Linked DNA regions of Homo sapiens: region 2 is linked to region 1. The links come from fine-mapping of genetic effects on gene expression. A gene starts in region 1. The other region holds a variant in brackets. All regions are shown on one strand. Distances are from middle to middle.

Evidence for each region. PIP is the estimated chance that this variant, and not a neighbour inherited with it, causes the effect.
Region 2: its variant is the best candidate, but not a certain one, in a credible set for the expression of IGSF22 in sun-exposed skin (GTEx, PIP 0.63).

Annotation. Positions count from the first base shown.
Region 1 is chr11:18,723,855-18,729,226 of GRCh38, reverse strand. IGSF22 (immunoglobulin superfamily member 22) reads left to right here and starts at 3,039. Exons shown (of 23, transcript NM_173588.4): 1 at 3,039-3,153; 2 at 4,958-5,099. The coding sequence starts at 4,991. PTPN5 (protein tyrosine phosphatase non-receptor type 5) reads left to right here. Exons shown (of 15, transcript NM_006906.2): 15 at 200-1,299. The coding sequence ends at 293. The region is part of intron 2 of IGSF22-AS1 (IGSF22 antisense RNA 1); the gene reads right to left.
Region 2 is chr11:18,666,485-18,671,856 of GRCh38, reverse strand. No RefSeq gene overlaps it. Among named protein-coding and RNA genes, the nearest start is that of TMEM86A, 30 kb to the left of the region's middle. RefSeq lists an enhancer at 2,900-3,401 and a silencer at 4,629-4,829. The variant G/A (reference allele first, on the strand shown) is at 2,958.

The DNA.
Region 1 (5,372 bases):
ACAGAGGCCGAAAGTGGTAGGACATGTCATCTGTGTCCCTGATAGGAAGGGGCAGAGGGTAATGGTTGGCAAGGGTTGGTCTCTCCAAGACGCACAGGGGCAAGGCCTGGCAAGTGATTGCTACTCCATGGCTTTTGGGGCACCTCCCACAGCCCATCCCTCCACGACCCTGCCCCCACTGTGCATCTCTGCCGGGCAGGGGCGGCATGATCCAGACATGCGAGCAGTACCAGTTTGTGCACCACGTCATGAGCCTCTACGAAAAGCAGCTGTCCCACCAGTCCCCAGAATGACTGCGCTTCTCCTACAAGGTTCTCTGGGCACTGCCCAGCCTGAGTCTCGGCCCTCACCCAGGGCCCTGCCTCGGGTCCTGGGCCTGCTCCCCGCTTCCTCCCCTTCAGTCAGCTCCCTCTGTCCTCTGTCAGCCTGGCCTGACCCCTACCCTCCAGCATTGCTCTTCCTACTGTACATATTGGGGAGTGGGGGGCAGGGTCGGGAAGGGACATGCCAGGCCAGGCCTGGGGCCCCGGGGCCTGACCCACACCACGCAGACCCCGGGCTCCAGTTTTTAACGATGGTTCCATCAATACCTGATCCAGAATGTTTCCGTGCTACACTTTGTGTCCTGCTGCAATGTGTTCTGTCTGTCCATCCATCTCTGCCCTCTGTACCGGACACTGTGTCTCCTCAGCCAGGAAGGGGTAATGAGCTCCAGCCCCTAAGCAACCGGACTTGCCTGCCTCGGCCTCACCCGCACTTCTCCCAAAAGGCAGATGACGGGGAGTTAGGCATGGGGAGCTCCAGAAGGTCACCAGAGAGCTTTCAGCTGAGGGAGAGTTCTCTAGGTTGGAGTGGGCATCACAGCCAGGGTGGCCTCTGGGTGTCAGATGCTCTCAGGAGGGTGCCCAGCCTGTGAGGCACTGGCAAGGTAGGGGGCAGATGGGGCATGGAGAACCCAGAGGATCTAGGCCCTGTTGGGGAGGGGAGGGGAGCTCAAGGTTTGGGTGGGGACTCAGCCCAGATCTACGTGAGACATTTTTCTGTGTCACTGTGGGAAAGCCTTCCCAGAAGTCTCACTGCGTGTTGCTCTGCGTGTGTTCCCATGTCCATGCGTGTGTTGAGAGCCCATCAGGAGGGCATGCATGACTCTTTGGCAACATGTATTATCTTGGAGCCACGTGTTTTTATTGCTGACTTTAAATATTTATCCCACGGCAGACAGAGACATTTGGTGTCTTTTTATAATTCGCTCGTGGTCATTGAATAGAGCAATAAACGGAGCATTTTGAGCAAAACTAACCTCCTGGGTCTGTGTGATTTGCCTCTCCCCTCCACTGCCTTCCTTCCTGTACTTGGGTCTTTGTGCCCCTCCCCAGCATGAGCACAGTGAGCTTGGCCCTTCTGCTCACTGGAGCCCCTTGTGGAGACTGGGAGTATGGAGCGAGTCCAAATTTGTAAAGCCAAACTGGGAACATTCTGCAGGATTCTCACACAGCCTCAGCCCTGGCCCTGACACATGCTCTGGGCCATGGGGAGCCTCAAGGACAGGTGTGGAAGGCTTCCAGGGAAGGCACAGTGGCTGGCAGGTCACCATTTCCAACAGATGTGCCAGAGAAGCCAAGGCTAGGGTAAGGAGACATTCAGGTCACACCCAGGCCCCTCCCTGTTGGCCAAACTCTTATCCCATGTTAGCTCCACAGATCCCAACAGCAGCTGCAGCCCAGTAATTTCCCTTGTAAGGCCTGGGCTCAGAGTAGCTCCTCCCAAGGGGCCCAGGGAATCTGCATGTGGGCTGAGATCCTGAGCCATCCTGGACACTCCTGCTCTATTCTTGTCCCCTGCCCCCCTGGGATGGAGCAAAAGTAGCCATGATGCCACTGCTGGCAGGTGGGGGTCACCCCAGGGCAGAAGGAGGGGTCCAGGGCAAGGGTGCTGACCAACAAGTCCTTACAAGGTGCCAGAACCTTGGGTGGGATCCAGGGTCCAGGCATGCGGGGTGTGCTACAGATGATGAGAAAACAACAGGGTGGGCTGGACACGGTGGCTCACGCCTGTAATCCCAGCACATTGGGAGGCCGAGGGGTGGCAGATCATGAGGTCAGGAGTTCGAGACCAGCCTGACCAACATGGTGAAACCCCATCTCTACTAAAAATACAAAAATTAGCCGGGCGTAGCGGTGCACGCCTGTAATCCCAGATACTCAGGAGGCTGAGGCAGGAGAATCGCTTGAACCTGGGAGGCAGAGGTTGCAGTGAGCCAAGATCGTGCCACTGCATCCAGTCTGGGTGACAGAGACTCCATCTCAAAAAAAAGAAAAGAAAAGAAAACAACAGGTGGCTGAAGCAGCCCAGATGGAAGTCCTTGAGAAGAGGTGGCCATACTCTCCAGTCACCCTCAAGCAGAGACCTCCCCACAACCCCCGGAGGATGGGCCCTCCTACTCTTCTACCCAGATTAGGGAGATTGGGCTGTTGAAGTGGGAAGAGGAAGGAGACCTAACATTTCCCTGTTCTTCCCCAGGGTGGCCTTGTAAAGATACTCAGGCTGTGTATGAACCACACATAGGAGTGCAACATGAATGGGAACCCCTGGATTTGTGTAGCAACGCAGCAGATCCCAGAGGCCCTCCCCAGTTCACCGTGTCCCAGTCCCTGGAAAATACAGACCTGTTGCTTTGCTCCCTGAGCCCTGCTGGACTATGCATGCACCTGTACCTGAGTGTGTGCCTGTGCACACACACTACCCTGAGCCCCTCAGCTCAGAGAGGTCCTACCCAGCAGCAGTGAGAGCCAAAACCTGTACCACAAGGGAACAAAAAAAGTACCCCTGGACTGCCACCCTCAGCCTCCTTCCCGCCTGGCCTTCAGTGTTTCCCCCAGCCTGGATCCAGCTTTGCTTCCCGCCTCCCTTCTCCACCGCCCTCCCCCTCCCCCCACAACCAAGCAGTGTGCCATCTAGCTGAGACAGCTGCAGAGCCTGACTAAGGAATCGCCCCCAGGGGGCCAGACATTTAAGGAACAGATGACACTGGTAGCCTCACTGTTGGGGCAAAGGAAGAAGGAGACGGGCCACCCTACAGTCCAGGCACTAGCTGAGCCTCCAAAGCCGTGGACACAGCATTCGAGTGTTGGGAGGGACTGGTCAGTGCTGAAGGTAAGGCTCCCCTCCTCCCTCAGGAAGGGGACAAAGCTGACCACCTTCTGAGCCCAGAGGGGACTATAGGGTAGAGGGCAGGAATAGGAACAGGGGAGTAGTCTCAGAACCCAAAGGTAGAAGCAGCCCAGGCAGAGATATATTAGGGGGTGGAGAGAGGGAATAGAGTTTAACCCCTAACTACCTGGGTTAAAGAAGGCTTTGGAGCCCTCTGGGACGCCACTGGACTGGAGTCAAAAGCTAGGAGTCTAGTCTGAGTGACCTTGGACAGGTCATTTCTTTCAGACATCAGTTTCCTCATATACGAAATAGGACTTTAAAAACTGCAATGCTGGGCCAGGCGCGGTGGCTCACGCCTGTAATCCTAGCACTTTGGGAGGCTGAGGTGGGCGGATCACGAGGTCAGGTATTCGAGACTAGCCTGGCCAACATAGTGAAACGCCATCTGTACTAAAAATACAAAAAATTAGCCGGGTGTGATGGCGGGTGCCTGTAGTCCCAGCTACTCGGGAGCCTGAGGCAGGAGAATTGCTTGAACCTGGGAGGCAGAGGTTGTCGTGGGCCAAGATCGTGCCACTGCACTCCAGCCTGGGCAACAGAGCAAGACTCTGTCTCAAAAAAACAAAAACAAAAAAACTGCAATGCTGGCCACATGCAGTGGCTCACACCTATAATCCCAGCACTTTGGGAGGCCAAGGCAGGCGGATCAATCGAGGCTAGGAGTTTGAGACCAGCCTGGCCAACAAGATGAAACCCTGTCTCTACTGAAAACACAAAAATTAGCTGGGCATGGTGGCACGTGCCTGTAAACCCAGCTGCTGGGGAGGCTGAGGCAGGAGAATGGCTTGAATTCGAGAGGAGGAGGTTGCAATGAGCCGAGATCACCCAAAAAAAACCGCAATGCTGGTTAAATAAAACATTGAGAAAACATGGTGCTCTGAACAGGAATGAGGAAACGCTATCATCTGGTATGGAAAAAATCTCCAAGACACATTAAATGAAAAAAGAAAGGGTCAGAATAGTGTGTATAATGGGCTACCTTATGTGCTTTTTTAATTAAAAAAAAAAAAGGAAGATGATAAGAACACATGAGTTTTCCTATTTGCATGATGGAGGTCTAGAAGGAGCCTAGAGACTGGCTACCTGTTGCAATGGGGAAGGTTGTAAGATAGACGCAGGAGTGGGAGGGAGCCTGTCCATATGGATTTTTATATTGTTTTATTCTTTAACTATGTGATTGAATTACCAGTTCAAAGAAAAATGTAAGAAAAACTAAACCTTTGCCTTTACCATGTCGCAAACACAAGCAGAATTGTAGTGATGTTTTGTCATCTGTTTTAGCATTCCACCAGTGCCGGGGTCCCCAGGGCCCAGGAATAAGAGACACAGCTTCCTTCTAAAGCCCACTCCAGTATGGCTTAGTCAGGAAGTTCTTTCTTAGGTCTGACTGCATTCCCTCCTGATGAAACATCCAGCACTGCCTCCTTAGTGCCATGTAGCTATCAATAGGTATCCTCAACTCCCTCCAGGCCTTACTTGGTTGGCTGGGTAAGTCTAAGCCCTATAACCTCTCCCTCTGAGACCCTGGAATAGTTTGGAGTTACTCAGTGAGAGGACAGGCCTATTGGGTCTGGTAACTAACCAGGAAAAGGAAGCTAGGAAATGAAGAAAAGAGAGCTCGACTGCTCTCCTGGCCCTCTCCTGTGTGCTTCCATCTCCTCTTATGTCTGAACACACACATAACATCTCTGAATCTCCCTCCTACTCCCTGTCTTGTCCTTCATGGCCTCATCCTCTTCCCCAGTCTCACAGGTGAGTGCCCACGCCTGCTGTCACCATGACAACCATTCACAGCCGGCAGATGCTGCAGGAGCACGTGTCCATGGAGTTCTCCAGCTCCACCACCCACGTGCAGACCTTCTCCCAGACAACCAAGATCGTGGGAGGCAAGTGGAATGGGGGCAGGGAAGGGATCGGGAAGGGCAGCTATTCTTCCTCCACACCCATCCCTTGGGTGGCCCCAGTTTTGCCACTAATGGGCCCCTCTGGAGCCCACAATACCAACAGCAACCCCCACCCAACGTGTGCTTCTAATCTTGGCTTTGTTAAAGCTTCAGCCAGCTGGATGTTCAACACAGATCAGATCTCCAGGAAAACAGCTTAGAAAAGATCAATCATGTGGATGTGTGTGAATGATTGATAAACTCTTAATTGCTGAA
Region 2 (5,372 bases), 57 kb after region 1:
TAATTTTTGTATTTTTAGTAGAGATGGGGTTTCACCATGTTGGCCAAGCTGGTCTCAAACTCCTAATGCCAGGTGATCCACCCGCCTCGGCCTCCCAAAGTGCTGGCATTACAGGCATGAGCCACCATGCCTGGCTGATCTGTATGTTTAAATAGTCGCAAATCTCAAAAAAATTTTTCAGTGTATTTATGGGGGAAAAATCCCATATATAAGTGGACCTGCACAGTTTAAACTCATGTTGTTCAAGGGTCAACTATATTTTGTTATCGCAGCCAGAGCCTGAGCCAAGTAAGACACCTTCTTTATTCCATTATCTCATAACTCCATTATCCTCAATTCTCACTTTCTTGTCATATAGTAGCATCACCAGGTTACATGGTGACTCACCTTCCAGTGCCCTTGCATTTGCTCCACAAGCTGCCTTAGGTTCCACCTGGCCTCCAACCCCCACACCTCCTACAGATTTGAGCATGCCCTCCTCGGGGCCCTCCAGCCCCCTTTAATCAAGATATGAAAGACAGACAGACACTAATATTTAATAAAACAGTTAAAACTGTAGGCTCTGAGGCCAGAATGTCACAGTTCTATCCTCTGCTAATTCCCTGACTTTAGGCAAGTAATTCAGCCTACCTGTGCTTCAGTTTCCTTATCTGGAAAACAAGGTCATTACATGAGTTAGTCTACCCATAGTACTTGGAACAGTGTCTAGCACATTACAAACATTCAGTAATTGTTACCATAATTAATACCCTGTCTCGGGCACAATGCTAAGTGCTTCATATGTAGTATCTTATGTAATTTTGATGTCAACCCTGTGAAACAGAATTGTCATCTCCTATTACATATAAGCAACATCCCTGGTCACTGTATCATTTTATCTTATTTTATTGTTTTTGTTTGTTTTTTGTTTTGAGACAGGGTCTCACTCTGTTGCCCAGGCAGGAATGCAGTGACACCATCACGGCTCACTGCAGCTTCCACCTCTCGGGCTGAGGTGATACCTCCTGCCTCAGCCTCCCAAGTAGCTGGGACCACAGGTGCACACCACCACACCAGCTAATTTTTTGTTTATAGTAGAGACAAGGTCTCACTATGTTTCCCAGGCTGGTCTCAAACTCCTGGGCTCAAGAGATCCTCCTGCCTTGGTTGGGGTTACAGGCGTGAGCCACCATACCCAACCATCTTATCTTATTGTCTTTTTAGTATCTACTACCATTTCCATATTACACCATTTATTAGTTTTCTTGTTTATTGTGTCTCCCCAACAACCCTGCATGCCTGAAAGTTCTAAGAGATAAAGAGACTTTGTCTTGTTCACCACAAAATTGCAGTGCCTAGTAGTAAATTCTCAATAAATATTTTTGAATACATGTATCATCAAATGAATGAAAAGGAGAGGTGAGGCCAGATGTGATGGCTCACGCCTGTTACCCCAGAACTTTGGGAGGCCGAGGTGGGTGGATCACCTGAGGTTAGGAGTTTGAGACCAGCCTGGACAACATGGCAAAACCCCGTCTCTACAAAAAATACAAAAAATTAGCCGGGCGTGGTGGCAGGCGCCTGTAGTCCCAGCTACTTGGGAGGCTGAGGCAGGAGAATGGCGTGAACCCGGGAGGCGGAGCTTGCAGTGAGCGGAGATTGCGCCACTGCACCCAGCCTGGGCGACAGAGCGAGACTCCATATCAAAATAAAATAAAATAAAATAAAATGAGAGGTGAACTTGCTAGGACAAGGTCACACAGCAAGTAAGTGACAGAACCAGATTTGACATCAGGTCTAGATGGTTCTAAAAATCAATATTTACTTCTGCTTCCCAGAGCAGCCACAGCTGGGGGGAAAAAGCTGTAGAGGGCAGGGAGAGGGAGTGGACAACATTCAGCTCCCTAAGCCAGCGCTTCCCCTCTCTCCTCCCATTGGTCAAGTGACATCACAGCTGGCGGAGTCGACATTGATATCCAAGGTGCTTTATGGACTAGCAACCCAGCTCCAGGTTGCACTTACAACCTCTTATGTCTCCACATCTAAGGGAGAGTAAATCTGTCTGATAAATCCCTGGGAGTTACGTCATTGATTAAAGGCTATGTGCATCTCTTCTTTTGATATTAATCCAAAGAGGATGCACCAGTCTCTACTCACATAGTATTTTCTCACACTTTCACAACAGAGTACTAGTAATCTTTTTTGATATTTTAATTTTTGCCAGTCTGAGAGATGCAGCTGGAGACTGCAATATTCTAAACCTCCCCAAATTGCTCCCGGGGATAACATCTTAGGTTACAGTAAAACCTAAGATCAGTGCTTGAGATAGTTTGCAGATCCTGTACTCGATGGATCAGCTGACACCACCCAGATCAATAAACTGGCTCATCTGGTCTTGTGGCCCCCACCCAGGAACTGACTCAGCGCAAGAGGACAGCTTCAGCTCCCTATGATTTCATCTCCAACCTGACCAATTAGCATTCCCCACTTCCTGAGACTCTACCCACCAAATTAACCTTAAAAACTCCAGTCCCTGAATTTCTGTGACCAGTCTCTGCTCTACATAGTATTTTCTCACACTTCCACAACACAGTATTAGTAATCTTTTTCATATTTAAATTTTTGCCAATCTGAGAGATGGAAAAGAACTCATTTTAGGTTGACTAATTCAATTATGAGTAGGACTATGCATTTTTTTCTTTTTCTTTTTTTTCTTTGTTTCTTTTTTTCTGAGGCAGAGTTTCACTTTTGTCCTCCAGGCTGGAGAGCAATGGCACGATCTTGGCCCACTGAAACCTCCGCGTCCCGGGTTCAAGTGATTCCCCTGCCTCAGGCTCTTGAGTAGCTGGGATTACATGTGCCCACCACCACGCCCAGCTAATTTTTTGTATTTTTAGTAGAGATGGGGTTTCACCGTGTTGGCCACGCTGGTCTCGAACTCCTGACCTCAGGTGATCCGCCTGCCGGAGCCTCCCAAC[G/A]TGCTGGGATTACAGGCGTGAGCCACTGCGCCCAGCCCGTCTTTTCTTGTTTATTAGCCATGTATAAGCTGTTTGTCTGTGAGCTGCCTGTTCCTGTCTTTTGCTAATTTGATTTGAGATTCTGCATGAGGACCTAGAGCGGCCCCAAAGTCCCACACCCGTCCGCTCTTCTCTCCCCACTATCAGCCCCTCCCCCTGCTCTGCTCGGTTCTCTACTGCTGCCTAGTGACAGGGGTTAGTCTTACCACAGGCCTCACAGACGCAACTACTGCCTGCCTCTCCCTGAGGATAAATTTCCTGCTGGAATCATGCCCTTGATTCCTAGGTGGGATTGCCAGGTGTAGTTAATAAGAATGCAGGACCTCCCGTTAAGTTTTTAGGATTGCCAGGTTTAGTTAATAAGAATGCAGGATCTCCCGTTAAGTTTGAATTTCAAACAAGCAAGTACCTTTTTAGTTGTGACATACTTTTATCCAAATTTAACTGAGTGTCCTGTAATATATCTGGCAACCCTATTCCAAGGCTTCCCATTAAATTTCAGTCCCCACCCTCCACCATTCCTCACTGGCTCTCATTCTCAGCAAGTTCCATTCTACTACATTCCTCCCCAGTGGTTTCCTAAATGGCACGGTTAGGCGGTACATGAATCACCGTTGTTAAGACCTTGTCTCTGGCTCAATCCTGGGTTTGAATCCTAGCTCCAAACACTTTGCTAATTTCTTTTAAAACTGTATCTAGTCAGAACTTAATCATTTTATTGCATATGTTTTTACAGTTGCCTTCTATTTAAGTCGAGTGATAGTGAATTCCCAGATTTCTTTTTAAAACAGATTTAAGGCCAGGCACGGTGGCTCACGCCTGTAATCCCAACACTTTGGGAGGCCAAGGCGGGTGGATCACGAGGTCAGGAGTTCAAGACCAGCCTGGCCAAGATGGTGAAACCCCATCTCTACTAAAAATACAAAAATTAACTGGGTGCAGTGGCAGGCTGAGGCAGGAGAATCGCTTGAACCCAGGAGGCAGAGTTTGCAGTGAGCCAAGATCGCACCACTGCACTCTAGTCTGGGCGACAGAGCAAGACTCCGTCTCAAAAAAAAAAAAAATGAAAAAAAAATTTAATCTTTAAAAACCTGAAGAAAAGGGATTGAATAGTACAGATAATAAGTGGAAATGGCAAAAGTCATAAGGCAGCTTCTGAAATGATTAAAGTTTGGGAAATACTGTCCTGTTCCCATCCTGGGAGTCAACACAGATCAGCACAGTGCTGACTGAAATAATGTGCTCCTTTTGTAGCAGGACAAGCTGTAGACAAAACCCCTCAGACACTGAGTTAAAGAAGGAAGGGCTTTATTCGGCCAGGAGATCGGCAAGACACATATCCAAAAAACCAAGCTCCCGAGTGAGCAATTCCTGTCCCTTTTAAGGGCTCACAACTCTAAGGGGGTCCACATGAGAGGGTCGTGATCGATTGAGCAGGTGGGGGTACGTGACTGGGGGCTGCATGCACTGGTAATCAGAACGGAACAGAACAGGACAGGGATTTTCACAATGCTTTTCCATACAATGTCTGCAATCTATAGATAACATAACTGGTTAGGTCAGGGGTCAATCTTTAACCAGGCCCAGGGCACGGTGCCAGGCTGTCTGCCTGTGGATTTCATTTCTGCCTTTTACTTCTTCTAGTTTTTACTTCTTCTTTCTTTGGAGGCAGAAATTGGGCATAAGACAATATGAGGGATGGTCTCCTCCCTTACTTTATGTGGCCCTGGTTTCAGGAGGAACCTTCATAACTCAGAGGGTGCCCAGGGGAGGAGGGAAAACTCAAGCATATATAACTGTTTCATTTGGGGGCTGTGGCAGTGTAACGACTCAACAGGTTTTCCTTGCCTGCTGCCTAGACAAAGCTGATGCATCAAGACAGGGGAACTGTGGCCAGGCGTGGTGGCTCATGCCTGTAATCCCAGCACTTTGGGAGGCTGAGGTTGGTAAATCACAAGGTCAGGAGTTCGAGACCAGCCTGGCCAACATGCTGAAACCCCGTCTCTACAAAAAATACAAAAAATTAGCCAGGCGTGGTGGCAGGCTCCTGTAATCCCAGCTACTCAGAAGGCTGAGGCAGAGAATTGCTTGAACTCAGGAGGCAGAGCTTGCAGTGAGCCAAGATCTCACCTCTACACTCCAGCCTGGGTGACAGAGCGAGACTCCCTTTACTTTACTTTCTTAATAATTTACTTAATTCCTTTACTTTCTTAATAAACTTGCTTTCACCCCGTCTCAAAAAAAAAAAAAAAAAAGAAAAGACAGGGGAATTAGAATACAGAAGGAGTTTAATTCATGCAGAACTGGCTGTATAGGAGACCAGAATTTTATTATTGCTCAAATTAATCTCCCCAAAATTTCAGCAATCTGAATTTT